4 separate regions of the Homo sapiens genome follow, and regions 1, 2 and 4 are each linked to region 3. The links come from fine-mapping of genetic effects on plasma protein levels. A gene starts in region 3. Each other region holds a variant in brackets. All regions are shown on one strand. Distances are between the middles of the regions. Region 1 overlaps ENPP6 (ectonucleotide pyrophosphatase/phosphodiesterase 6). Region 2 overlaps ENPP6 (ectonucleotide pyrophosphatase/phosphodiesterase 6). Region 3 holds the start of ENPP6 (ectonucleotide pyrophosphatase/phosphodiesterase 6). Region 4 overlaps ENPP6 (ectonucleotide pyrophosphatase/phosphodiesterase 6).

The links. PIP is the posterior inclusion probability: the model's chance that the variant is causal. Protein levels are from antibody-based Olink assays in UK Biobank. Linkage for the fine-mapping came from a reference panel and not from the study's own genotypes, which makes the PIPs less certain.
Region 1: its variant is fine-mapped to the plasma level of the ENPP6 protein (UK Biobank, PIP above 0.99). The variant lies in the coding sequence of ENPP6. If it changes the protein, the assay may bind it differently, which can mimic a change of level.
Region 2: its variant is fine-mapped to the plasma level of the ENPP6 protein (UK Biobank, PIP 0.97).
Region 4: its variant is fine-mapped to the plasma level of the ENPP6 protein (UK Biobank, PIP 0.98).

The regions. Positions count from the first base shown.
Region 1 is chr4:184,150,067-184,157,462 of GRCh38, reverse strand. ENPP6 (ectonucleotide pyrophosphatase/phosphodiesterase 6) reads left to right here. Exons shown (of 8, transcript NM_153343.4): 2 at 3,730-3,909. Among named protein-coding and RNA genes, the nearest start is that of ENPP6, 64 kb to the left of the region's middle. The variant C/A (reference allele first, on the strand shown) is at 3,784.
Region 2 is chr4:184,200,366-184,207,761 of GRCh38, reverse strand. The region is part of intron 1 of ENPP6 (ectonucleotide pyrophosphatase/phosphodiesterase 6); the gene reads left to right. Among named protein-coding and RNA genes, the nearest start is that of ENPP6, 14 kb to the left of the region's middle. The variant C/A (reference allele first, on the strand shown) is at 3,609.
Region 3 is chr4:184,214,644-184,222,039 of GRCh38, reverse strand. ENPP6 (ectonucleotide pyrophosphatase/phosphodiesterase 6) reads left to right here and starts at 4,167. Exons shown (of 8, transcript NM_153343.4): 1 at 4,167-4,461. The coding sequence starts at 4,221.
Region 4 is chr4:184,185,258-184,192,653 of GRCh38, reverse strand. The region is part of intron 1 of ENPP6 (ectonucleotide pyrophosphatase/phosphodiesterase 6); the gene reads left to right. Among named protein-coding and RNA genes, the nearest start is that of ENPP6, 29 kb to the left of the region's middle. The variant C/T (reference allele first, on the strand shown) is at 3,813.

The sequences.
Region 1 (7,396 bases), 65 kb after region 3:
GAAAGAGAGAGAAAGAAAAGAAAGAAAGAAAAGGAAAGAAAGAAAGAAAGAAAGAGAAAGAACGAATTTATTTATGATGCTTGTTAAAGATGGTAAGGCTAACTTTCTTTAAGGAGGAACCACTGTGATAGACGGAAGGATGCTGCAGTGGGATCCAGCAGTGGGAGAGAGATTGGGCTCCACTCCAAGTACAACAGACAAGTAGAGATTGACAGACAAGGAACATGGTGGGGTCAGCGGATGCAAAACTACTAAGAAGAAACATCAAGGGATTCTGGCCAATGAATTCTGGCTAGATCTACTCAACAGAACTCTTGCTGAAGGCAGGCAGGGTGGTGAGATATTGAGGGTGGTCAGATACCAAGCGTGGAGGATTATCACTAAACTGACTTAGCAGGATTCTTGCTCAACCTGGACTCTACAAGAAAAAGGAAGGAAGCCCAAGTTTGAGTCTAGTTGAGCAGAGGACTCAGAAGTCAAAGAGAAAGTCTCTGTGACCATGAGTTATAGGTAAGATGGACATATCCTCTACCTTCTCGTGAGATGTGAAGGCCAGCCATTTCTGAGATGAAACATATAACATGGTGCAGAAGTTTCTGGGGGCCTTGCTAAGAAACTTCTTGTGATGGTCACTACGTCGAACATGCTTGAGTAAGACTCTGTGGAATGAACACCGAAGGTGTCATATCCCACCCCCTTCATACAGCAGTTCTAGCTATGGGAACGATTCCAGGAGCTCTCTCTGAGAAAGGCAAACACATATTTCAAAGCCCCCAGAGTAGTCATTTGGAGGAGGAAGAGCTGTAGACATTCCTTACATCATACCTGAAAACCACTTGCAATTGTGGTGTTGGAGGATGTCAGGAAAGTTTCTACTCAAGCCTTGAGCAAAGAGACCAAAAAACCACACCACATCCAAGCTCTGTTTGGAAAGCACAACCAGAGAAAAACCCAGAACTGCAGTTGTATAAAAATAGATATGGGTCAGGCAGGAATATGGAGATGAGAGCTCGTGGGCTGCAGAAGCCAGTACATTGTGTTCTGTTCTGTTCTTTCAGCCACCAATTTTACCGAGGCAATAAAAATGAAAGAGCAAGAGAGGCAGAGGGTTGGTAGGGAAATCAGCTTGAGTCTGAGTCGACTTCGACTGTTCCAAGCACAGACTGCAGCCTTACTGTATTCATGGGAAGGCGGGACAAGATCTGAAGCAGCCTCCTCCTGCCAGCTTCCGGGAAAGGCTGCTCTTCCCAGAGCAAAGGAAGCCCTGGGGACAGCACACCCTCCCATCTCAGCTCAGGGCCCAATCCACCAAAAGAAGAAACCCAACTTTCTCCACAGGAGTCTGAGGTGACCTTCTTGAAAGCGCTCCACCTTATAGGAATTCTCTGGGAGAATGTTCTCTCCATCTCTCTCTCTGTCTCTCTCTGTCTCCCTCTGTGTTTCTGTCTCTCTCACACCTGTGCATGCATGCACACACACAATCCAGCCATACAACAGCTCTGCAATCCACAAGAAGCTCCTTATAATTTTCTACTCAGAGAGCAGAGAACAAAGAAGAATGAGTGAGTTTGGACACTTTAGAGTCCAGAGTGCTAAATATGTGCGTTGAAGAGAAGAGAGAAATTTTCACCAAATGATATGGGGTTTCTGAGATATACAAGTATAGATTATATGTACTTTAAAAACTGTTTTTTGGTTGCTTCATGCTTCCTTGTATGCAGCCTTGTGAAAACTACATCATGTGAAGCCTCCATTTATCTCTGGGTTTCATGGCCTTGTTCTAAAATGGTCCAAACAATTCAAGCTTGGAAGCAGAGATCCCTCCACCCCTCTCCCTCGGCATCTCTCCCTATTATTCCCATGTCTGATATCCCTGGTCCTTTCCTGATGATTCATTCAGAGGCTCTTCTTTGGTTCCTGACCTCAGGAATGATGCTTCCCACACCCCCTTCCAATTTTGCACATTTGCTCAGCTTCTTTGCACACCAGCTGCAGTTGAGATAACCTCCTGCACTTGGAAGGGCATCAGAGAACATCTCTCTATGAGGAAAGACTGTCCACGAAGGAGGCCTTTTCCTACAGATATGATCATGGTTATTTTGCCTTGTGAAAGGATGAGTAAGCATCATTAGGATAATACAATTTGTGACACAGAATGCAAAATTTTGAATAAAGGAAATAGATAAGTACTTTTACTTGTAAGAGGGGCTCTCTTAATATGATTCAACTTTCATATACTAAAAACGATAATATAGTTGAACCAATAGATTAGGACCCTACTTTTAATGAGTTGGTGAGAACATACTAGGAATTATCCTCTGCAACAGGGTGAGCGAGGGTCATCATAACTCTGAAGTTGTGGCTGCAACCTGTCCTCCTTCTCAGACCCAGCCCCGGGAAGCCTGGCTCTTTTACACAGAGGACCCTCTGTTGAGTATTAAATTACAAGTCTCTTGAGGATGGGCATGACATTTATTCAGATTGGAATCTCTACATCTATCACAGCCTACAATACATAGGACTATATATGTAAGAGCACTGAATACATGTTAGTTGAAACAATAAATAAAATAACTTCCTTAACCATTGCCAAAATTGCTCAACATCTTAATTTTATTTTATTTTTAATTGTATTAATCTTTTTAATGTGAAAGTTTTGGTCAAGATCAAAACACTAATTCTACAGCTTTGGGTGAAAACCATTTTTGCTGGGATCTCTGGGAGCACAGTAGCATAGTTTGTGGCCTGCCTTGCTTTCTGGGATGAAATGAAAGGTTTTTCCATTTGATATTTTTAGTGTCTATTTTCCAAATAGTATTTTATAATTTTTCTTTGTTTCTGTTTAAAAATAAAATTTTGGGAGGGGTGGGGAGAAGAAACAACAACAGTAAAACAAAGAAGAAAAGCCACTTGATTAAGCATAGTTAGGGAGCTCAGTGAAGCATGTTTCGTCCTGGTGCCAAATGACGCTCACTAAAATTGCAGCAATTTTTGATGCACTTGCCAATGTTTGTGTTATTTTTACTTTAAAGATGTAACAGATTGCTCCAAAATAAATAATTTAAGCCTAATGTTTCAAAAGAGTCCAAGCGTTTGCGTCTCTCACTTCTGGCTTGTCTTCTGGGACTAAGCTGTGCTCAACAGAACCAGCCCTCGTTTCTGTATAACACTGCATTTGAAGGGTTGTTTTCCTGCTTTGTTTTTCAAAGTTGAATCTATTTTTCGCTATTCTGTTCCAAACGTCATAGGTTTTATCACTGTTCAGAGCTGAAGCAACAACTCCTCTTATTTAAGAAAGGAAAGAATAAACGCTATAACAGCTAGATTGCTGATCTCACGGGAGGAGGGTTTGGAGGGTGCAGAGAGGGCTCTGGGGTGAGAATCTGAGACCAAGTCTCAGAGGAATCCACAGATGTCCATGCTAATTCATATTTAGACTTCAAGCTCTGCACAGTGTCCTCAGTGTAACTTAAAACAGCTGACTTGACAGGGTGACGTCACTCTAAATGACCCCACCCTCCATCAATTAGTGGACATCTAACTGGATTGTCTACCTTCATGGCACAGCTTAAGAAAAAAAAATCTGATTTTTTTTTAAAGTCAAAAGCAAATCTTTATGCTGTTCTGTACTTCCTAAACGAGCACGAATGGCTTATATGATCAAGAAACAAAGATAAAAATAGAAACCACCAGAACCGTAAACTGACAGCTGTGTTCTCATTGACATAGGCCGCCATTGTGAAGTCCATCAGATGATCGGGAACTACATGTGGGACCCCACCA[C/A]CAACAAGTCCTTTGACATTGGCGTCAACAAAGACAGCCTAATGCCTCTCTGGTGGAATGGATCAGAACCTCTGTGGGTCACTCTGACCAAGGCCAAAAGGAAGGTCTACATGTACTACTGGCCAGGTGAGTGTGTGAACATCCATTCCAAATCTCAAATCATCATAGAGTCTCTGAGGACAGTCGGTGTCAAGTTACTGTTTGAAGACCAAGCCGTGGTTTGGAAAATGGGATCTTTATTTAAGAAATATGTATTGGCTGGGCACGGTGGCTCAGGCCTGTAATCCCAGCACTTTGGGAGGCCGAGGTGGGTGGATCACCTGAAGTCAGGAGTTCGAGACCAACCTGACCAACATGGGGAAACCCTGTCTCTACTAAAAATACAAAATTAGCTGGGGTGGTGGTGCATGCCTGTAATCCAAGCTACTCGGGAGGCTGAGACAGGAGGATCGCTTGAACCCAGGAGGCGGAGGTTGTGGTGAGCTGAGATTGCGCCATTGCACTCCAGTCTGGGCAACAAGAGCAAAACTCAATCTTGAAAAAAAAAGAAAAAGAAAAGAAATATGTCTTATGGGCACATTTTTGAAAAATGTGTTTTTAACTCTCTAACATCAGACCAGAGATAATGCTATTTCCTGATTCTCTTGACATAGCAAACACCACAGGATAGCTTGCTTTTTTTCATGTGCAAAATGTTGGATATACAGGAGAGAGAAATTATAGGGTGCTTACTTGCTTTACAAAAAAAAAAACAGTGTACCATTTCCATACGTCATTGAGCTCCTCTACAATATTGAAAAGAGAATTGAAAGCACTCGCTATTTTTTGGTAGTCCATGAAATGAAGTCCCTTTGTGTTAAGACTCCCATGCTACATCCTAGCTCAACGAGGTAAGTAGTCATGCAAACTGCCTCGGCTGCTGTGAGAAGTCCTCGGGACACCCTCATCTTGGTCACTGAATATCTTTCATTAAGGATGAGAGGATTCAGTGATAACAATACAACCCGCTTCCCATTGTCTTTCCATTGGTGGGATTCATTATTTAGGTAAGTGGTCAGTTTACCTTTCCCACGCCCGTGGCAATAGACACTTTTTTCCTGATTCTCAATGGTGTCATCCTGATGATGGCCATTATGGAGGAAGATACCAGGGGAGGCCTAGAACGTTGAAGGCATAAATGAAGAGCAGCCTGTAGGAGATGGGGTGAAGTGGCTGAGGGGGTCGAACTGGTCTGGATTGAGGACAGCGGCAGCCTGATGGGTCTGTGAGTGGGCGGTGGGTTGTGAGATGTGTAGTCTGCAGGGAGGGGGCAGTGGAGAGGGGGTGAAGGCCCACAAGGATTGCGTGGGCCTTCAGCAGGAGTTTGGAGGATGCTGGATAGAGGTGGGTGTGTGGGGAGCTGCTGGGGCACTCCAGGCTATGCAACTCTCAGAGGTACATGGAACACAGACACACGGAGACCGCGGAGGGCAGCCCACCACCCAGCTGTGGTGCGGCGTGGCGCGCACCGTACAAGCTGCTGCAGAGCAGTGGCCTCACCCGCAGGTGAGCTTCTGAAGGCCAGGGCAGGCTGCATGAATTCACAGCTGGGCCAAGCAACAAAGACATAGCCAGCACAGGCTCTCCCAGCAGACACAGCTTCAGGGGGGTTGATCACAATTTCTTCAGAAGACACCTAAGATTCCTTCCATAGCAGCCACCTCGGCTGACGCAAGACACCTTTGAGCAAAGGAAGAGGAAGAGTTTAGGAGGATTCCATTATCTTACAAGGAGATAACTTTTCGTGGAGTTGGACTAGATTTAAGGAAGGAAGTCACTGCACGGAGCAGGCTCATCAGGCTTGCTAGAGGAGCCAAATCCAGGGGTGAGTTTGACTCTTCTAGCAAGTGTGATGAGGTCAAAGCACAAAGATTTTGTTGCACTTTGAGGTCATTCTCAGAGGCATTATTATCAACAAATTCATACACAGGCATAGCAGAGGGAATGGATTGGGCACACTGCATTAGGGACCACCCGGAAACAAATCTGAGGAGCATCAAGATGAATGTGGCCAATACCATGAGGATTATCTTCCATGATAACTGGATAGTTTGACTTTCACTATCTTAGAACTTAAGTTTTTCCTCCTTTGAAGAACACACCCTCACACACAAAACCTTCCTGCCAACAACCCTTGAGCCCCCTCCACATAAGATCTCCTGGAGAGGGCCTTTCATCTGCCAGGATGCCAGTGCTACAGCCAAGTGGGAGGAGATCCTACTGAGGGGCAGTCGCCGTATTGCACACACTTCTCTCTGCAGCAGTACAGGGTATTATTATTGTGCTTTATCTCCTTTTGTTTTTGACAGAGTTTCACTCTTGTTGCCCAGGCTGGAGTGCAGTGGCATGACCTCTGCTCACTGTAACCTCTGCCTCCCCAGGTCAAGTGATTCTCTTGCCTCAGCCTCCAGAGTAGCTGGGATTACAGGCGTGCACCACCACGCCTGGCTAATTTTTGTATTTTTGGTAGAGACAGGGTTTTACCGTGTTGGCCAGGCTGGTCTTGATCTGCTGACCTCAGGTGATCCACCCACCTTGGCCTCCCAAAGTGCTGGGATTATAGGCATGAGCCACTGCTCCAGGCTTTTAGCTCCTCTTGGAGAATACAAATTTATATAGCACTGAGTGTCTAAAGAAATCTGAAAGCTAATTTGCATGAAAAATATCTTGTTGCTCCTCCAAAACAGCTCCTTCAGGATAAGAAGGGACCAATATCTTCCTCTGATTCACAGTCTAACAGCTAATGGGATGTGACAAAAATGCCTTAAGATCATTTACAGTGTTAACTGTCAGGAGGAAAGAAGCTATAAAGATAGCCTCCTAGAGTTTCCTCAGTGACCTAAATGAAGATTTGCTGAAGATCTGGCTGTGCTGAAGTCTTCATAGATATAGAATAAAGTCTCTAGTCTCTCAGACACTGTCTAGTCCTTCTAAACTGGATACTCAAATGAAACTCTCAGAGAGCCAGCTGTCTCTGCTGCCAGCCCAGCAAGGTGTGCCCTGGCACCCTCTCATCTTCCTGGGGGGCAGCTGCAGTATTTCTGGTTGCTGCTATCCTTTCTCTGTCTACCCTGGTTCCCTCCAGCCTCAGCCAATAGCCCAATGAGCACTCATGTGTCTCTGCAAGATTAAGTGAGGCGCAGGGGCATTTCTTCAAAACACAACTTGATTGTATTTTTCTTCTTAAATCCTCCTCTTCCTTCTCCACTCCCCACAGGATATTGTACAGACCTCTCGGTGAGGCCTGGAAAATCTTCGTTGCTCTAGTGAACTGGGTTATGACACGCTGAGTTTCGCCATTAAGTCAATATTTAGAAGTGCAATTTAGAAATGGCACTAGTTCAAGTCTTCCTGTCAGGTAGATAAAGCAGCAGGCTGAAAAATTGACCCACAGTGAAGAGTCCAACATACTCCACCTCAAGTCTTGAGGCGTTTAATATAGTTCAACAGGCCCTTTAGCACGCCACCCAGTGTTGCCATTGGAGTGCAGGGAGAAATATGCCTCTGGAAATGATCCCAGGCCCTAAGTCAGGGGAGGCCCCCCAAATCAGCCAGAAATTGTATATATGACCCA
Region 2 (7,396 bases), 14 kb after region 3:
CACAGAGAATAGGGAGTAGGGCCCCAGCGTGCTGCAGAGGACCAGGGAGAGGAGGCGTTCCTTCCAGTTGGAGTAGTGTGAAAAAGCATTTTAAAGAGGAGAGATCTGAGCTGGAAGAAACAGCCACCGGCGTGGTGTGTGTCTCTACATCTTACTTTAGGCATAAGCTCTCTCTCTGAAGAGCGGTGTGTGGATCAACTAGTGAAAACACAACCACAGTTTAAATGCCCTTGGAATGCTTTCTGTTTTAGTGTATCTTACCGTGGATCTTTTCGTAAAGTTATTCTCCCTTTGGGGTAAATTCACATTTGACTGAAGTGGAGTTTAACATAAAGTCAAGGAAAGAAAGCAGTGATTTGTTCAATCCAGGTCATGGGTAAGAGGGAAATGCTGCATCTGTTTTGAGGCAGCGTAACTTAGCATCATTTTGCTAAGGCTAATGGTAACATTTGTTTGCAATTTTCAAACACTTCCGGTTAAGCAGTTGAGGAAAGTGGCCCAGAAACATTCTGAGTAGCGGGGAAGCCAGTCTAGAATTTTATCTTTACTGCCAGTAAACTACCAAGAGATGAACAGATGCTGAAATAAGTTTGTTCCACAGTATATTATTATTATTTCAACATTTAGACACTAGTAAATAAAGTGCAGGGAAATTCAATGTTTTGTTTCAGGCACCAAAGAACGTCGTGGCAGAGCTGAGATGGGGGAGCAGGCATCAGAGACCCCGTTCTCACACAGCAACTGGCCAGCGCCTAGGCGAGTAGGCATCAGAGGTCCCGTTCTCACACAGTAACTGGCCAGGGCCTAAGCCTGCATCTTAGAGTGGCCAGAAGGTTGTGCGAGTGACCTGAGACCCAAGGATAGAGATCTCCCCAAGACAGTCCGGGAAGCAGCGAGAGACCGAATCATCGTGCTCCTCTGTGGAAATCAAGGCAACAACAGGGATGTTAACTACTCAGCATTACTATTTGTGCCACGGCATTTTGTCTCGCACTCCTAGAAATCACCTGTGACACAAATTCTTACTAGATATCATGTTCTGGGGTAAAACAGCAGAGTAAGGTATACTTCCTACCACCCCACCTTTTAAGAAAACATCTGATTTAAATTAAAACTGGACCAAAGGCAATCAATGCAGAAAGTACTTGAACAATCGTGTTTCGAGAGAGCCCACATCCTCAGCCTTCTGCAGAATTCAAGCTTCCTGGCCGGGCGCGGTGGCTCACGCCTGTAATCCCAGCACTTTGGGAGGCCGAGACGGGCGGATCACGAGGTCAGGAGATCGAGACCATCCTGGCTAACACGGTGAAACCCCGTCTCTACTAAAAATACAAAAATTAGCCGGGCCTGGTGGCGCCCGCCTGTAGTCCCAGCTACTCGGGAGGCTGAGGCAGGAGAATGGCGGGAACCCGGGAGGCGGAGCTTGCAGTGAGCCGAGATCGCGCCACTGCACTCCAGCCTGGGCGACAGAGCGAGACTCCGTCTCAAAAAAAAAAAAAAAAAAAAAAAATTCAAGCTTCCTTTGAGGGGCTGTTCACAGACTCTGCATACGCACAGCTCCAGGTAGGGTGGAGACAGCCTCCCTGGTCCCCTCCGCCCTCCTTCCCCCAGGATTAGCATTTACATGGGGACATTGCCCCAGCTTGTGAGCCTCCTTCAATGTAGGTACCTCCTGAAATAAATGATCTCTGTTCGGCATGCCCTCTTCCTGTCTTCCTACTCTCTCTTGCACCAAATCCAGCGAAGCTTCTGTTTGGAACAGTGTCCTCCCGGGCGTCCTGGTCATTCCCAGCCTTAGTTCCCTGGCTGGGAGCTGCATCTGCCTGACGGCTCACAGGTCCCAGGACCCTGTCCTCTCTCAGTTTCCTTTTACTTTACTCACTCCTCCTTCATCCTTTCCCTTGGTTCCTCCTGATCTCCCTGACCTTCCTCTGTCTCACAGTGAAATCAGCTGACCTTTCAAGGTCGATCCTCAGCCTCTCCTCCCCCAACCTCCATTGCTGACCCCTGGCTGAAGCCACCACCCTGACTGCCTGGAGCCTCCTCTACTCCAGCTCCCTCTCGCTGCCTGCCCCACAACTAGAGCAGCCCTGTTTTGAAAGCAGTGCCTGCCCTACAACCAGAGCAGCCCTGGGAAAGCAGTCCTGATGACACCACTCCTCTGTTCAAACCCTCCAGCGGGTTCTGTTGTACCCCAAGTGGAATCTAACGCTCTTGCAGACCTGGCCCTATAGGTCACCCAGCCCCTTCGGGGCCTCGCTCCCACCACCCTTCTCTTCGCTTGCTTGTGTCCCGCTGGGCGTGCTTGAGCACGCTGCTCCTCCTGGCTGCTTCCCTTCTGCTTGTTCCCCAGAAAGGCCCAAGCTGGGCATCGCTGCATTCTTCAGATCTGCCCCACAAGGTCACCGTGGCGGATGCGTCTTCCCCAGCCACCCCACCAGCGCTCTCTCTCCCTCTTACTTTCTTTATTTTCCATCACGGCACCAGATTATTTATTTCTGTCTTCTCCAAATAAAACTTATTATAGTGGGCTGGGCACAGAGGCTGACACCTATAATCCCAGCACTTTGGGAGGCCGAGGCAGGTGGATCATTTGAGGTCAGGAGTTCGAGACCAGCCTGTCTAACACGGTGAAACCCTGTCTCTACTAAAAATACAAAAAAATTTAGCTGGTTGTAGTGGTGGGTGCCATAATCCCAGCTACTTGGGAGGCTGAGGCAGGAGAATCGCTTGAACCCAGGAGGAGGAGGTTGCAGTGAGCCAAGATGGTGCCACTGCACTCCAGCCTGGGCAACATGAGCGAAACTTCATCTCAAAAAAAAAATTACTATAGCGAAAAAGCATTATAATGATGATTAAGACATTCAGAGTTTCAGGGAAATGAATGATCACTTTGATGTTCGACACTTCTAAACTAATAAGGAGGAGAAAAAACTACAATCATGCTTTGCTCATATGAAAGCAATTTGCATTTAGTGAACTGATTACCCTTTACGTCTAGTAATCTTACATATCTCAAAATGTGTCTTTCAGTTTTGTTTTAAATTTTGATTATAAGGTTGGAGTCAGAAAGAGGCCTGGAAGGAGAGTCACCTCCAAGGAGAGCTGTGTCAAAGTAGGAGATGAAAGAGACTGGGGATGGTGGGAGAAAGTTTAACCAGGAACCAGTGGTCAGCACAGCCCAAGGGAGAGCCTCCTTGTAGTGAAGATCGCTGAAGTCGAGAAAGTGGAGCCAACAGCCACGCATGGAACCAGGCACATGATTCAGAACCAGCGTGGAACACTGTGAGGACGGTTCAGGCCTAGGTGCGAGTGGTCTGGCTGTCGGACCTAGGGACGCATGTGGCAGCTTAAAGGGACTTGCACGGCCACTCTTGTGTTTTCAGCCTCTGTCCCAGGCTGCTTAGGTGGCCAGGCTATGTATGCCAGCATCGCAAGGAGCTACTTAGATGTTTAAAAATATCAGGCCACGTTATGGGCTAATTTGTACACCCCCAAAACCCATGTGTTTATGCCCTGCCCCCTAATATCTCCGAATGTGACTGTATTTGAAGATAGGATCTTTAAAGAAGTAATTAAGGTAAAATGAGGTCACTAGGGTGGGCACT[C/A]ATCCAGTATCGCTGGTATCTTTATAAGGAGAGGAGATTAGGACCCAGACGGGCACAGAGGGAAGACCACATATAGACACAGGGGGAAGGCGGCTGCCTGCAGACCAAGGAGAGAGGCCTCAGAAGAAATCAACCCTGATGACATCTTGATCTCAAACTCCCAGCCTCCAGAACTGTAAGAAACTAGATTTCTTTTGTTTAAGCCACCCAGCCTGTGTTACTTTGTCCTGACAGCCATTGGAAAGCAATATAAACGGGATCGTGACACTAGGCTGCTAATGGAAAAATGCAGGGTTTTTTTACACAGCCCACTTCCATGACCAAACCTACTCACTGAGAGTTTCTGGTGACTTCTGCCCTGAAATTGAGGCAGTCATGGTGTGTTAGCTTCCTAGAGCTGCTATAGCAAATTTGGATTCCCAAAGTCTGAAATCCAGGTGCGGGCAGGGCCGTGTTCTCTCTGAAGTCTCAAGGGGAGAACATGTTCTGCGCTTTCCCCTGCCTTCTGGTGTCACCAGCAATCCTCGGTATTCCTTGGCCGGTAGATACATCACTCCAACCTCTGCTTCCATTGTCACGGGGCATTCTCTGTGTTCCTCTGTGCTTCTCCTTCTTGTAAGGACACCAGCCATATTGAATTAGGGCCCACCTTAATGACATCATCTTAACTTGACTATGTCTGCAAAGGGCTTATTTCTAATAAGGTCACATTCACAGGTCCTGAGGCTGGGAACTTCAGTATATCTTCTTGGGGGCCACAAGTCAACCCATTACGCATGGTCCAGTGGAGAAAGTTACGGATTTAGCTGTCAAAGATCAAACTTAATCTATTCTGTCACTTTTTGACTTTCAGAATTTGAACAGCTTCTTTTGAGTGTTAATATTTTGTTTTGTTTTGTTTTAGAGACAGAGTCTCGTCCTATCATCCAGGCTGGAGTGCAGTGGCACGATCTCAGCTCACTGCAACCTCCGCTTCCCTGGTTCAAGCGATTCTCCTGCCTCAGCCTCCTGAGTAGCTGGGATTACAGGCACCTGCCCCCACACTTGGCTATTTTTTTTTTTTTGTATTTTTAGTAGAGATGGGGTTTCACCATGTTGGCCAAGCTGGTCTCAAACTCCTGACCTCAGGTGATCCACCTGCTTTGGCCTCCCAAAGTGCTGGGATTACAGGCATGAGCCATTGTGTCCAGTGAGTGTTAATATTTTATCAGTAGAATGTAGAAAGTAAATGTTACCCAATAGGCTTGCTGTGAGAACAGAATGAGCAAATATATGTGTAAACTCACCATTAGTAAGAGTGTACATATTACCCCCTTTATCAGTAAGGTGAGGCTGAGTTATGTTGTTGCAACAAGCAATTCCACACCACGTCTGTCTTAGAATAGCTCAGGTTTATTCCTCACTCATGTGCGTGGCCTTGAGGAATGACCTCCCCTCCGATTTCCTCTTCATTCTGGGACCCAGGCTGAAAAAAGCAACTTCTAAATGAGACATGCTGCTCTCATGGCAGAGGTAAAAGATAAAATAGAACATTGTGATCATGGATAGTTTGGGCAAAGGAGGAGAAGTGAGCGTGGTCAGGTCAGAAGGAGGGGTGCTGAGCCCATTTGCCATCTGGGTGTGGGTCGGGGGTTGCAGAGAATAGAGTGTGTCAAAAACGTGCAATTGATGAAAGTCTATGAAAGCCATACCAAAGGATAGTCCAACAGGCTCCTCCTCCCCTCCTGTTCCACTCCAGACTTCACCGCATCTATCCTTTATGATGGGCTGTAAGTGAGGGGGAGAGTTGAATTTGAAGGGCACCCATGAGGCAGAACTTGCTGATTGGCTGATGAGTGAATACGAAAGAAGAGCCTGAACAGATGCCACAGCTGCAAGATCTTCTGAAGTCTGAGTAAAGGGGCTCTCATTAGCACAGATGGGAAAGTTTGAAGGGCTATTAATCTCAGTGAGATTTATTTGGAAAAGTAATTTTCATCAAATTATATTTCAATTTGAGTAAGATATTCACTTGGCATTAGCCCTTTAGGGGATCAGAGACCATGTCTTAAAGGAGAGTTCAAGAAGCATGCAGAATACCACTGAGGCAAAGGAGAGAAATTGATCCTGTGGGTCCTAGTGGACCCCAGTAAATGGACTTCCTATCTCACTGCTTGCTACCCAGCTGGTAGAGAATATTTCTCACGGATGCACAGTTAAAATCTGTCTTCCCACCTGAATTAACTTTTGTCAACATTTTGTCATATACTTCCCAGAGACACCTAACAACATTTTTTCCACTTAAACTATACTCTCTGTAATGAGCCTCGATTAAGCTGCCTAAAGAAGCAGGCATGGTAGGCGAGGTGTCCAGCAATTGAAGCTAGAAGTGGGTAAGAGCACTACTAACCAGCCATGCCCTGAGGAAAAAAAAAAATGTGTTCTAAGAATTTACTAAAATAATGTCTCCCAGCACATCATTATTTAAGCTCCTATCAACAGACCTCTCTGCACTGAAGTGTCACTTTTCAAAAAGTATGTTTCTTTTGGCTTCCATGGTGACCAGAGGGTGTTCTGATTATATGGCATTCAGCTGCTGGAAACTTGCTCCATGAAGAAGGGAGTGGTTAGAGTAGGGGGCAAAGCTGTAAAATGTGGTGAAAGCTTTTGATTGTAATAACAGCAAAGGCGTTTCCAGAAGGCTTGTCCACGTGGAGCCACTGCGGTCTACACACCATGGCGATCTCACAACACCCCCCCGCCCCGCCTCCCTCACCCCAATGTTGATTGATAGGATCATGTGCCTCCTGCCAAGGCTTTGGGGATGGCTTGACCCCTGCAGCTCCAGTTCCTGCTCAGCATGAGTGCTGTGCCAAAAGTGGGTTAAAGGGCATTTCAGATTAATTTGGAGGGAGCCTGACTCAGCAGGTTAACATTCATCTCAGAGACACCTTCAGCAACACCTGCTCGAGTTTCAGAGCCCCTCTCCATGAATAGGTCCATTGTGTCCACACGATAACCAGGCAGAGACCTGGGGCAGAGCTGGGGGTCCTGGGGGCGCGCGTGCTGTGTTTGACTCTTGTTGGATACTTTGCTTGGTCTGAACCGACTCCCATCATCAGCCCTTTCGACAGCAAGGAGAGAAGATCCAGAAGGCAGATCATGGGAGGATGCGTGGGCCACCTTATTTAGACAAAGGGCTGTCGGGGCTGAGAGCAATGGAACTTTGGTCCAGGATACTGAAGATCTTTACTTCTTGATGAAGGAACTACCCAGGGCACCTTCAAGAGCACGTGCATGGGAGAATGTGTGTACATGTCTGCAGCAGAACAACCCAGGCTGAGTGCTAGGGACCAGGAGTGGGCTCCAGGTGTGCCAGGAGGCCAGGTCCCCCGGGAGTCACCTTTGGTGGTGAGCAGTCTCATCCACTCAACCTGGGTTGCCCAGCCGATTATCTGCACAGGGCAGGCTGCGAAGCAGTGTGGGCCACAGGGCAGGGAAAGGGGGCAGAGGAGCCGGCTTCTCCTGACTGCCACAGTCCGCAGGGACTTGGATACATTACATCATCTTCCTGGGCCTGCACTCTTGCTGTTTAGCGTGAGAAGACCAGACAAATGGAGCCCTGAGGTTGGTTGTGCATTTAGTGAGTGCGCAATTGATGTTAATTAGGTTCTGGCCAACTAGGTGTGCTAACCCCAACCGAAGCCAAAAAGGTTCACAGTGACTCGATAGCCAATTACATATGCTTGAATCCACCTTTTGTTGAGAGGCCTCCACGCACCACAGATCATGTAATTAACCAACACACA
Region 3 (7,396 bases):
GTACAAGCCTGTTGGTAACTAATTCTCTCATCTTTTGTTTATCTAAAAATGTCCTTATGTCGTCTTAAATTTTAAATAATATTTTTCCAGATACAAGGAGGGTTGACATGGACCAACAAAAGGCCAGCAGGGCTGCAAAAGCTGGGATGAATTAATTAATAGGACCAACAAGGGTGGATGTTGGCCGACATGGGCTGACTTGGGACCTCACTCTCAAATTGCATTGATTCTACAGCTAGAAAGTAGAAGCTAGAGCTTTGTCACTTTTCAGAGGTGAAAACTGAAGCCCAGAAAGGCAATTTCTTCAGAATCACACAATTGCATCATACCAGGATCTTGACTCTGGAATCACGTTTTTTTTGTGTTTTTTGTTTGTTTATTTTGTTTTGTTTTGTTTTGTTTTTCTGAGACTCTTTCCCTTCCATCTCACCTGTCTCTCCATAAAGGGGAGGCACCAGGGTGCTGACTAATCTGGACAGCACATTTCCTGAGAGCTCATGCATGTCCCTAGAGAGACTTGCAGCAGCTTTAGGACAAAGGTTCTTTCAACTTCTGGAGTAAATTTTTCATATTTTGCATTATCTAAGTGAAACCCCTGTGGACAATGACTTTACAGTATTGCCAACCCTTGAAAACAAGTTGCAATAAGCACTTATAAGCATTAGGTACTGATAACCACTCCCAAGTGAAGACATCCAGATCATAGACACATAGGTTTTGGATCACAAGACTTTGGGCACTTAATGTTAACCACCTGTATGACATATGGCTTTTAACTATTGCTTTTTAGCTTTCATTTCCAATCTTTTCTAGGTTAGACGGTTCAAGACCTGGAGACTGGCTTTGAGCAACCCTAGGATTACCTTGGCTTGAATTCCATCCAATACGTCTCTTTCTTCATATATTGGTATGTATATTAGAGATTCATATTGGCAATCATTTATTGATCCAAAGCTTTAGAGACATTGTCTAAACATGGTCATAACACAATATGATCATAAACATTATCATAAAACAATGATGACCCCACCCCAGATACATCACAACAATCTTTGTGGAGCCTTGGGAGCCTCTGGGGACCTGTGAACACGCTAATCTGAAGCAAGTTACTTCTGAGTTGACACCCACAACAGCTCAATGAGGCACTCAGGGAGCCATATTTTGAGTGTACCCTTGTTAGTAGTGGAGAAAAGTGGAAGTCCCTCTTATATTCATCTTTAACATTTGGAGTGCTTAACCTCTCCCAAAGTGAGCTCAGAAGCCATCCCAAAGTGAGCTCAGAGGCCATCCCAAAGTAAATCACTTGGACTTGCACTGTGACTCCAGCTTCGCAGTCCAGACAATCCCTGAGCCTCTCAGGAACTCACAGAGCACAGCTATCTGGGCCTCCTACCTCCATGGGCCCTCACCAGGGGAAGAAGTTCTCCTTCTAGCACATGTGATGTTCAGTGTCTAGGAGGCCCATCAACCCATCAGGCTGCATCTGCCTTTTCCCCTCCCCTCCCCTCCCTTCTCCTTCCCTTCCCTTCCCTCTCCTCCCTTTCCCTTCCCTTCTCTTCTCTTCTTCCCTTCCCTCCCTTTCCCTTCTTCCCATCCCTCCCTTTCCCTTCTTCCCATCCCTCCCTTTCCCTTCTTCCCATCTCTTCTCTTCCCTTCTTCCCTTTTCTTCCCTTCTTCCCTTTTTCCTTTCCCTTCCCTTCCCTCCCCTCCCTTCCATTCCCCTCACCTTCCCTTTCCTTCTCTTCTTCCCTTCTTCCCTTCCTTTCCCTTCCCTTCCCTTCCCTCCCCTCCCCTCCCTTCCCCGCCCCTTTCCTTCCCTTCTCTTCTTCGCTTTTCTTCCCTTCTTCTCTTCCCTTCCCTTCTTCCCTTCTATTCTTTTTTTTCCTTCCCTTCCCCTTCCCCTTTCCCTTTCCTTTCCCTTCTTTCCCTCCCTTCCCTTCCCCTCCCCTTCCCTTCCCTTCCCTTCCCTTCTTCGCTTTTCTTCCCTTCTTCTCTTCCTTTCCCTTCTTCCCTTCTATTCTTTTTTCCTCCTTCCCTTCCCCTTCCCCTTACCCTTTCCCTTCCCTTCCTTTCCCTCCCTTCCCTTCCCCTCCCCTTCCCTTCCCTTCCCTTCTTCGCTTTTCTTCCCTTTTTCTCTTCCTTTCCCTTCTTCCCTTCTATTCTTTTTTTCCTCCTTCCCTTCCCCTTTCCCTTTCCCTTCCCTTCCTTTCCCTCCCTTCCCTTTCCTCCCCTTCCTTCCCCTCCCCTTTCCTTCCCTTCCTCCCTTTTCTTCCTTTCTTCTCTTCCCTTCTGTTCTCTTTCCTTCTTCCCTTTTCTTCCCTTCCCTTTCTTTCTCTTTCTCCCTTCCTTCGTTTACTTTTCTTTCTTTCCTTTTTCTTTCTTTCTTCCTTCCTTTCCTCTTTCTTCTCTCTTTTCTTTTTCTCTGTTTATAGCAACAATACCACACAGCTCAAAGAAAAAAGAATAACATTGTTTTCAAAGTAACAACCTTTTAGGATAAACTCCCCTTTTCCTTATTTTTTAATAAGAAAAAAATTTAAATTTAATTATAAAAAGCATTACCTCTTATTGGAAAAAAGAATTCTGATCCTTGGCCAAGTCCCCTGAGAGGGGAGTGGTAATTTGGCCAATGTGTTTCTCTTTTGCAGCATAATTTAAAAAGTGACATGGTGATCCTGTGTTTGGGCTTGACTCAAATACAACAGAAAAAGAGAAGGAGAAAAGACACAAGCAGAGGGCAGAGGTGGAAGAGGGATTTTGGGGTTGACTGAGAGTGGCTGGTGTGGCTGGTGTCTATCTTCCTTCCCTGGAAAGTTTGCCCAGAGCCTGCAAGTTTCCTCAGGAGACAAGCAATGTTATAATGCGAATAACATCTAACATTTGTTCAACACTTGCTATGGACCATGCATGTTTTATGTCTTTTTTTTTTTGAGGCAGGGCCTCACTCTGTTGCCCAGCCTGGAGTGCAGTGATACAATCACAGCTTACTGCAGATATGACCACCTGTGCTCACACAATCCTCCCACCTCAGCCTCCTGTGTAGCTGGGACCAGGCACGTGCCGCCAGGCCCAGCTAATTTTTTAATTTTTTATAGAGATGGGGTCTTGCTGTGTTGCCCAGGCTGGTCTCAAGCTCCTGGCCTCAAGCAATCCTTCCACCTTGGCCTCCCAAAGTGGGCCACTGCACTCAGCCATGTTTTATAAGCCTTCACATGAATTGTGTTGTTTAATTTTATGTAGCATGACGGAGCCACTCTAGGGAACCCCTGGACTCTGGGTACTTTGTGCTAACTCTGTCTGCTCCCCAGCTCACATCTGCCTCCCTGTCACTAACCTCCTCCTATTTTCCACTCCGCCTAGTCTTCTCGGTCCCAAAGCCTGCATGGTAATTTCTAGCTCTGCTTTTCCATCTCAAGCTCTCAATCTCCAGCTCTCTATTTCATTTCCATCCTCCTGGGGCAATGCTGCTTCAGACCATTCTGCCAGTAATGATTTCCCATTGTCCAACTCTGGAAGCTTCTCATTGGCTCTAGGGCTCTTCTACGAACCACCTCCTCCTATGGGCACCAGCAGCTAAATCACATTTGAAAAATAAAATAATAACAAATAATAACACTGCATATAAAAACATAAGTGGCCAAGACATAGACAAATAACTTTTTTAAGTGCTGTGTCTACAGAGACACAGCTGGGAAGTTTACAAATGGGCCCACCGAAACGTATTGTTTCCTGTTTATGCACTGAGTCCAGAGGTTTGCGTTACTAAATTCTAAGTGAAAAAGAGTTTAAATGAGGCCATGATGTGGGATAACAGCAAATTAAAATCTTGCCCTTTTCCTTGGTTCCTCCCTTTGGTTAGCTCAACTGCAAAGTTAGTGTTGACTTTGTCATCTTCTAAAATTCCACCTCTGTGGGTGCTTGTATTTCTGGAACGTTCACCAAAAATAATAAGTTTGAACTCTCTCCCCTGGTGTTAATTCTGGGTTGTTTGGAACCCAGTTTATCTGAAGGAGTCGGTCTCTGGACTTTCTAGTAAAGGGTGAGCATAGATGTGTGGAAAAGGGGGTGCTGTTCCTTTAAATTCTGCAAGTGAACTTGACTCAGGAAGGCCAGCGGCTCAAGGTCCAGCCCCTGGAAGAGAGAATAGCTACAGATTCTCCATCCTCAGTCTTTGCAAGGCGACAGCTGTGCCAGCCGGGCTCTGGCAGGCTCCTGGCAGCATGGCAGTGAAGCTTGGGACCCTCCTGCTGGCCCTTGCCCTGGGCCTGGCCCAGCCAGCCTCTGCCCGCCGGAAGCTGCTGGTGTTTCTGCTGGATGGTTTTCGCTCAGACTACATCAGTGATGAGGCGCTGGAGTCATTGCCTGGTTTCAAAGAGATTGTGAGCAGGGGAGTAAAAGTGGATTACTTGACTCCAGACTTCCCTAGTCTCTCGTATCCCAATTATTATACCCTAATGACTGGTGAGTACCATGTCCTCTTCTGGGCAGGGAGGGGAGGGCTGGCATCCAGCAGGGAACAGTGAGCTCCTGGCATTGGAGTCTTATTTAAATGCTCTGGATTCTCTAGTCCTTTGGGACATCAAAGGTAGATAAAAAAAATCTGTGTTCTTGGCTGAGAAGACTTTTGTTTTCGTGGCGGTATTGTTTCCCAAAAGTTATCCCAAGGACCTGTTTTGGATTCTCAGTGCGGAGGACAGAGAACTATAGCAGTACATGATATTTGACGATATTAAAAGTGGTCGTTTATTTTAGAAAGAGAAATTCTAATGAGGCTCATATTTTCTAAGTTCAAGTCTGCAAAAGCAACAGGTGTCCGTGCATGTGTCCCAAACTCCTTCTGTCCCTTTTCTCTGTGGTCATGTCATCCTGGCACCCTGTGGGCTTGTTTCTCAGTGTGTTGGACTGTGAAAGTACCTGTGGGGTCCTCAGAGGGGAGTGGTGCTCCCGGATTACTTGGGGAAGGGGGGATGTTTAGGTCATATCCTTCCCTGTGACTTAGCAATGCCACCTTCCCCTTCTTTTGCCTTTTTGGCCAGGTAAAATGATACGGAGAAGAAAAAGCTTGTGTCGTTCAGGTTCCCCATTTGTGATTTGCAGCATCTACAAAAGACCAACCAGCAAAAACTCCACAAAACAAACAAAAACCTCGGCTAACCCAGACTGCCTGGGCTTGGGATAGCTGATTTTCCTAAGGACGGCCTTCATCTGAAATTGCCAGGACTCCAAACGCGACTGCATGAACCTGAGCCTCTATCCGTGCGATAATAGAATGTGCAGCCCTCTCTCTGCTCACAGAGTTGGATTCCCAGTTTCTGGTTTGTTTTTCAGCTATAACCTTTGTAAAGGCAGCGAGAGGCTCTCAGAAAGAATTTAGCAAACTATCCAGGGAGGCTGCTAAGAATGCACTGTTATTGCTGGTTATGCGGGACTCAGCTATGCACTCTGAGCACAGAGAGAGCTCTGCTAATTATGTTAACAGAAAGAAAATGAGATCTCTGATATCTCATGGACCTCCACAGAACACTAAAGCCAAAAGAGTCTAAAACAGACATTTATATCTCTGACTTTGTGCATAGATACTATATACACATGTACGGAAAAATGCCATAAACTGATGCCCCAAACTGAAGGGGAGAGATACTTCGGAGAAATAAAAATGAGGGCATGAGAGAGAGAAAAAAATCAGACTGCACACAAGCAAGGAAGTTATGTATTTGTTTTTTATTTCCCCCAGCAGACAAAAAAACAGTCTCTAAGATAAACAGAATTAACAAAATTCTCTGGCCCTCCCCTGGCATGTGTCTCCCCTTGCAGGGAAGCAGTTTGCAGGCTGCCGGCTCTCACATAGACGTGATTGTGTGGACAGCCGACTCCAGCTCTGTGCAGCGGCTTCACACACACAGCCCACCCCCACTCCAGCTGTCTTTCAGAGCCTTGCCAGGGGACCCAATTCATAAACTGCCACGCCACGTGCAGCTTCTGCAATCTTAGTGGAAAATGAACAAAATCCATCTTAGAAAGGACTCAAGTAAGTAAAAGGACCATTACAGACTCCACAGAGACACTAAGCCAATGACATGGCCTTTTGTTTGTCAGATCCACACTCCTGATATTGGCACAAGGAATAATTTGCACACAGCCTCCGTCATGCTGAGACACACCTTCTTTTCCGGCTGTGGGTGTTTTCCCTTGTGCTGTCCTGAGAGAAGGGCCCCTTCCTTTATGGGCAGCACAGGTCCCGTGAGTGTCTGACAAAGATCTCACCCTTGCTTTCAAACTGAGGCTGGCCCGAGGAAGCCACAGGTCTCCATATGTGTTAAGTCTCTGTATTTTCAGATGGCCAAATGTATTCACTGATGTGGAAGTCTGCTTGGTCTATATGTTTCATAGAAGCTACCCTGCACAAGGGAGGGATCTAGCAAGGCTCATGTTTCTGTACAAATGTCCTTGGGTATGATTTGTCTTGTACCTACTGGGCAGACTTGCAGACTTGAAGCAGAATTCGCAGGCTGGGAAATGCCAGGCCATGAACCTGGTATCACCTCCACTGTCTTGGAACTGACTCAGAGTTAAATTTAGACTATTTTCCCCAATACCCATACTTATTTTTCCACCTGATGCTGAAAACCTCCTCTTTTACTCATATAAAGAAGGATATAGCCATTGGGAATTGTAGCTAAACATATGGTTTGAGCATTTGAGCATTTTATGAACCAACAAAATTGCTATGCTAGATCTTTTTGGAAGCAAAAGATATGCTGTTTTAGGGTTCCTCAGCATTCACAAGAGAGGCTAAGCTCTCACTTCATTACCCGAATTATTGCTCAGAATACAGAAAGCCCTTGGTGTTCTTCCCTTTGCATAACGAGGAGTGATGAGTTGTTGGAAAGAATGCTGGCCCTTGAGCTGGGAGAACTTGCTTGGAGACTTCAGGCAAAATAAAATGAGATGAACTGCCGGGGCTGCATCAGGCCGGGATTTCAGGTGCTGCTGGATGCAGACATAGAACTAGGCAATGCATGGGGAATTTTATTTTATTTTATTTCACTTTAAATTCTGGGACACATGTGCAGAACGTGCAGTTTTGTTACAGAGGCATACATGTGCCATGGTGGTTTGCTGCACCTGTCAACTCGTCATCTAGATTTTAAGCCCTGCATGCGTTAGGTATTTGTCCTAATGCTCTCCCTCCCTGTGCCCCCGATCCTCCAACAGGGCCCAGTGTGTGATGTCCCCCTCCCTGTGTCCATGTGTTCTCATTGTTCAACTCCCACTTATGAGTGAGAACATGTGGTGTTTGATTTTCTGTCCCTGTGTTAGTTTGCTGAAAATGATGGCTTCTAGCTTCATCCATGTCTCTGCAAAGGACATGAACACATTCTTTTTTATGGCTGCA
Region 4 (7,396 bases), 29 kb after region 3:
TCACTTTCTTCATGGGATGTCTTGCTGTACAAAAGCATTTATTGTTGATGAAGTCCTATTTATCAACTTTTCCTTTTACGACTTGTACTTTTTGTGTCATAACTACAAAATAATTGCCTAACCCAACATCGTGATGATTTACTCCTATGTTTTCTTATAAGACAAAGAAAATTTCTAGCTCTTACATTTAAGTTTGTGACCCCTTTTGAATTAATGTTTATATACAGTGTGAGGTAGTTGTCCCCGCACTATTTGTGAAAAAGACTATTCCTTTTCCATTGACTATTTCTGACAGCTTTGTCAAAAATCAATTGATCATAAATATTAGAGATTATTCTTGGGCTCTCAATTTTATTCCAATAATCTCTTGATGTTTAGGTGTATCCTTATGGTGAGATCAGACTATCATGATTGCCACGCTTTGTAGAAAGTTTCAAAATCAGTATACATAAATCCTTTAATTTTGTTCTTTTTAAGATTGTTTTGGCTATTCCAAGTCACTTGTACTTTCATATTAAATTTGGGAAGAACATGTCAACTTTTGCCAAAGCCAGCTGGAATTTGGATAAGGATTGTGTTGAATCTGTAGTCCAACTTAGGTAGTATTGCCATCTTAACAATACTAAGTCTTCTGATCCATGAATATGGGCTGTCTTTCCATGTATTTGGGTTGTTGCAGTTTCCTTCAGCAATGCTTTGTAGCTTTCAGCGTACATTTGGTACTTCTTTTGCTAAATATTGCTAAATGTTTTATTTTTTTTGACGTTAATGTGAATGGAATTATCTTCAGAATTTTATTTTTGCAGTATATAAACTGTAATTATCTTCCTACCTTACTGAATTTGTTTATTAGTTAAAAGTTTTTTGTGTATTCCTGAGGATTTTCTGCATACAAGAATATACAAGATCATATTTTCTGCAGATAAAGGCAGTTACTTCTTCCTTTCTAATCTTGATGCCTTCAATTGATCTTTACAGTCACGTTAGGAGTTATGTACAGGCATTTTACAGATGAGAGAACTTTCATCTAGAGAAGTTAAGTGCCTTGCCTGAGGTCAACTAGTCAGGAAGTGAGTGGATCAGGACCAGAACAGAGGGCTTCTGCTTCCCCCTCCATCGCTCTGCGTTCTCAACACACTGCCTCCAGTTGGCAGAGTCAGGATCTGAGAAGACAATGGATGGCCTATCTCTGTAGCACTCCTATTGTCTTCCTTTATTACAAGTAGCCGGATTCAGTCAAGCAGGGAGCAGAACGTACATTTCCCAAATGTCTACCGTATTTTGTGCTATGCTCAGTGCTAGGTACGTTCAAACACTATTCCAATTAATCCTCATAAAACCCTATAAAGTAGTCACAATTGTTCCCATTTTACAAATGAGGAAACCAAGGCTCTGAGATATTAAATTACTTGTTCAAGATTACAGGGCCCATAAATGGAAGAACTATGAGTACAAAATCCTGTGCTCCCCACAACATCATGCTGCCTCTTCCTTCTGACTTCTAAGGAAGCAGCTCTCAGGGCCGCCATCCTGCATAGGCATCTACGTGTCTCTCCCTTAGACAGTGATCTTGTAGCTGCATATGCACGTGGCATACGCCTGCACACATAGACACCCATAGTACATGAGCCACTGCCTTTCCAGGCTTCCTTCAGACTAAGCAACCTCCTGGGTAACTATTTTTTAAACCCTCCTTTGTGTGTCTCAATGGACAATGTGAACAATAAGCGCTTCTGGGGTTGAGCATAAAAGAGAGGATTCAACATCAGACACTTAGCTACTTATCTCAAATGGTCAAGGCTGCACAGTTGTGAAAAATGGCTTAAACAGGCCTCTTTTGATAAGTCACATCTGGGATACTGCCCCAGACCACCAAGATGCAGCTCTGGACAAGTTGCTTCTGATTATACTTGGTTATGGGGACCTGGGAGGGCATGGTGGTCCCAATGAGGGCAGGGTCTGACTCACCCTACATCCCACTCAATGTGTCTCATGCTCCCTGACACTTAGTAAGCACTCTATAAATGCCTCCTTGTATATGTTTTAAAGTTTCTTGAAGCTGCTGTATCCTAAATAGTTAGCCAGCTTTCCTTTTTAGCTGTTCTCTTCCCCATCTCATTTCCACTCCAAACAGAAAAGAAATTCCTGCTGCCAATCTATCAAGGGTGATATGTTTAGTCTTAGAGCAGATGAAACATCCAAATGAAAATGAGGGAGATCAGCTCAGACATATCTCCCCGATTCTCTCTGCTCTCTTCTCCCCAGTGACAGTCCACACACAAACCAGGATAAGTTCTAGAAGCACAAAGCAGAAATGGAAGGAATTAAGTATTTTGCAAACTCTGTCAAATATTGTGAGGGGCAAGAAGGCACCATACTTAAACTCTATGGTTTACCTTTTCACTAAATTCCAGATCGGTGAGTAATCCAGTACTCTGGTGGTTTAAACAACTTCTTTTGTATTACCCAAGAGATATTAGGTTTGAGAGTTCAAGCCACTTATAACAGAGAGTCTGGAAAATTTCTCAGAGACGGCGGTTCCCTGAGGCGACATGGTGTGTGGTAGGTTTTCTATTTTAGCACCCCTGCTTCCAGGTGGTTTCATGGTCAGCAAGAGAATATGATTTTTAATAACATGAAATAAAAAGGCAATGCTTCTGCCAAAATGAGATTACCTTGTATTTTACTCAGCCATATTTTATATTTTCTCAGTTCTTTGCCAAATCCAACCACTTGTCTCCTCACACGAGTTCCCTTCCTTTTCATGCTCACATGCTGATCCTGGGCTCTGGCTGGCTCGCTCCTCTCCATCTCTTGGAGATATTCATGGGAGGAGAGTCAGGATGGACCAGAAGTGGGAGACACGGGTTCTACTCCGGGCTGTGGTGAGATCTAAACCTTGTGGCTTCAGACAAAGTCTCCTTGGGTTCAAGTTGCTTTTCTTTAAAAATGAGGACATTAAGGACTCCACGGAGTTTATTTGAACATTCCTGCAGGGTCCTCTCTTTCTTCTGCCCTTCTGGCCTCCTCTGGTCTGTTTCCTCATGAGGCTTCCTGACTTTGTCCGTGGAAAGGCAGGACTGTCATTGGTCATGAGCCCCGTTCACTGCCAGTGCTGCGGACTCAAACCGGAGCTTCAGCATTGCTTAGCACCGGAAGCCTGTCCATGCTTACCTTTACTTTTTAAAGCGTGAATTTAGTCTTTCTATACCCCTTTCCCTAGATGAGACTCAAAGTTATGATTTAAAAAGAGGGAAAGTGGCCTGATTTGAGGTAGGATTTGTGGGGTTAGAAATCTAGGCCAGGAATTTCTGTTGAAAATCACATCTTTCACTACCAGTTTCCCTGAGGGACAAAGTCTAATTCTTTTTGGGAACTATCTAATGGACACCATCCCCTCTGGTTTCAACACAGCACCCCTGACTCAGGAAACTGACAGGACTTCCTTTCCTTCCATGGCCAGGAAAGGAAGGCGGCTGAGAGGAGAAATCCCCTGGCATATACATGAGGAACTATTTATTATATCAACTCCAATCCACTTTCCCAGCACGGCCCAGCTCTCTTAGTGTGCAGAGCCACTCGGCTCCAAGCTGCAGCCCCAAAGCACTTGACAGACTTGAATGGTCACCCTGGTGGGTCACAGGTGGAAAGTCCAGGAAATTACATTTTCAAAGAATGGCAAATGCATCCACTTGCTTAATCACCTTATCTGTCATTTTGCTTCCTAGGAATCTTTCTAGATCTATTCAGGTTCAAGTCTAAGTGTTAATAGGGCCAGGGTTTGACTTCTTCATGGAAATCAGTACCTCCTC[C/T]GTCACATAAAATGCAAAGCTGGTCCTACCAGTAGGCCCAGGGGATTAACAATCAGTCTCTCATGTGTGAGCGTGAGACATCTTTATCTTGAATGAAGCCTCCCACATTTAATTGGCAATACATTTTCCTGAATCTTTTCTCAGAAGACTTGCTTCTCTCTCCAGCTAAACTGTTCATAAATCTGTAGCCCTCTGGAGCAATGTGGCATCGTCTCCCCACGTGGCTTCTGAACCAGCTTTCCCTCTCACGTGAGATGCCTGTGTGTGGTCTCATGGAGCTGATTCCTAGCAGCCATATGCAAACACAGCGTGGCAAGACTGTGACACAGCTTCAGGACAGAAGCTTTGAGTCGTGTGCCAACCCTTGACTCAAGCAGAGCGTGGGACCCCAGATCGTCAATTTGGGGGGATGGGGGTGAAAATGGCAGTTGGTGAAGAAATTACCTTCTTTGTTTGGAACAAAAACCTAGGACAATATTTTCTTTGGTTGAAGGAATTGGGTTAACAACATACATTGTAGGTCTTGGAATATACCCCACAGACGCCAACCTCCGTTGATGTTTTTCATAAAGAGAAACGACTGGGAAAGGCTTCAGGCACAACGGAAACTGACAGGACTTCTAGAATTGAAACATAAACATAAGGATGGAAACAAAACACCCCTGGGTTTGTTCAACCCATGGGCCATGTTATACTCTGTCCTGGAATGGTCTTCTGTAAGAGCATGCTACCATAAAGGTAACACACAGAAGCTGACTCCAAGAGGCCTGTGCTTCCATACATCATCTATCGTGACTCTAGCATCCAGTCATAAACCTTATTTTAATTAAAGAATGTATGCTCCAAGAGCAGGACTTGGTCTTGTTCTGCGCTGTATCCCCAGCTCCTGGACAGTCTGGTTTATTCTTCATTCATTCATTCTTCATTCAACAAAATATTTTCAGAGCTTGCTATGTGTAAATAATAGGTGTCTATTCATTCATTTATTCAAGAAGTATCTCTCACCTTCTATGGAGCCAGAGATACTCTTCTAGGCCCTGGAGATACAAATGAACAAAACAGGGCAAAGTTTCTACCCTCCTGAAATTTACATTCTTGTGAAATGTTGCAGACAAATAACACATATATAAACAATGTCAGGTGGTAATAAATTCTATGGAAAAAGTTAGACGAGGCACCAAGAATGACCACAGTGCCATTTTACCTAGGGTGGTCTGCAAATGTCTTTCTGATAAGATAAAATTTGAGCAGAGACCTGAGCAAGGCCCTGGAGCTGGCCTGTAGATATCCGAGAACAAAGCATTCCAGGCAGGGAACAGCGACAGCTCTGAGGCAGGTGCATGTTTGGGATATTGGAGGAAGCCAAGAGCCAGTGTAGCAAGAGCAAAAAAGGAGCAATGAGAGTGGCAGTGAGGTCTGAGCGGTGTGCAGTGGTGTGGTGGCCTTCACGCAGTACTGCCCAGATCTGCTGCAGGGAGCAGAGTCAACCAATGGTCCCAGCTGCTGCTCCTTTAAGTCCATCACCTTGGTGCCAAAGTTTCACTTCTCCCAAGCTGACCCTGACCAATGACCAAGCAAGGTCAGGCTCCTGGTGCAGGCCTTTTCCTCTAACAGGTGACCTTGGCCCAGCTTGAGGATTCCCAGCAATCTGGTCAAACCTCCTTAGATTTGCAGACATCCTTTCTACCCAGTCCTTTCCTTCCGCATCTCCTCTCACAGATGCCAGACCTTACAAATGGGAGATTTTACGGCCTGCTTCTGCTTCCTCCCCTCCCTCTGTGTGGAACGAGTGCTTTCTTAACACATTTCTCTTATGTTTAACCTTGTCTTGGCGTCTGCTTCTTGAAGAACCTGAATGGACAAGAGGCCGCGGCAGGTCCTGTAGGTCGTGGCGCAGACTTTGGATCTTATTCTGAGTGTGGGGCTCACCTTTGGAGGGTTCTGAGTAGGGGGGTAGTGTGATAAGACTTTCATTTTAGAAAGATCACTCTAGCACCGGGGCATGGAGAGCAATGGCCAGTGAGGCTGAGGGCGGAAGCAGAGAGGCCTGTAGGAGACTTCAGCCCAGGCCACGGCGGGGCAAATGCATGAACTGGGATTCCACTACTGATGTCATCCTCTACCCTTCCTGCTCTTCCTAAATTCACTCAAAACCTCCTAATGGCCAGACCCAATGGCATCTCTCAAGATCTCTCTGTGTATTTAACCTTTTGACCATTCCTGCCTCCTAGAAACTGTCTCTTTATTGGGGTCCAAGTTTTCTCCTTCCTCTCAACCTCACCTTCTAGAACCTCCCACTGACTTCTCTTTGCTGGCCCCTTTATATTGGAGCTCCTCAGAGCCTGGTCCTTATTTCTCTTTCTTTCTTGTTCTCTCTTCTCACCTTGTCGGTCTCATGCACATTTATTGTTAATTCCCATTTGCCACCACCCCGCCCCCAGAAAACTGCTAATCTACTTTGCGTCTTTTTAGCTTTGCCTTTTGTAGATATTTTATCAAAACAGAATCATTCAATCTGTGGTCTCTTGGGTCTTGATTCTTTTACTGAGCATACTGTTTTTGAGCTTCATTTTCATTCACACTGGAACATGTATCCATAGTTTTTTCCTTGTTTACAGCAGAATAGTATCCCATTGTATGGCTATTCCTCAAGTTTTTATAATAGAAAATTTCAAAGTACAAAAACATTGAAATAGTATTATGAATATCTATGTACGCTTTATCAAGTTTCTCAAATTGTTAAGGTTTGGCACATTTGCTTTATTTAATCACTGAGAAATATAGGTTTCTCTTTTGTTTCTGCTGGACCAGCTGAGGGTAAATTGCTAACACCTGACACTTCACCGCTAAATCCTTCAGCATGGGTAAGGGTAAGATATTCTCTACACAACCACAATGCTACCCAACAAATTTAACATTGATTCAACAAATCAACTAATTAGACTATTTTCCATATTTTCAGGTTTTCTCAATGGCCAAAAAAGAATCCCTTAGAACATTATTTGAAATCTAAAATCTAATCAAGTTTCAAGCAGTACGTTTGGTTGCCATGTTCCTTTGCTCTGCATTAAGAGAAATTGTTTTGCCTTTTTGTTTTGTATTTTGGTCCTTCATGATGTTGGCAATCCTAAAAATCCCAGCCAGTTGTCTTGTACAATATGCCACATTTTGGATTTGTCTGATTGTTTTTCTTCATGAATAGATTCAAGTTAAACCTTTTTTGTCAAGAATACTACAACTTTTTTGTTTTTAATCTAAATAAGGACAAGGTGTTCTGCAGGTTAAAGAGGGTGATGAGAGTGAAAGGACCTTGGGGTCTGGGCATGATTCTCGCAAAAGGACACGGCTCCTCCTCCCTGCTACCCCACACAGAGGCTGAGACCATGTGGCTCTAGAGCGCTGGCTGGGGTGTCCCCACAGGTTTGTGTTTTGAGGTTCACAGGGATGCGTTGTCCCTCATTTGGTTGTAGATGTTGCCCGTGGGATGTTGTTTCTGGTGTTTGTCTTTATGGGAGGGTGTGAATTTAGTGACATTCAAAACCTATGCAAATCAGGATGCTTTTCAGAACGCAAGAGGAGGTAAG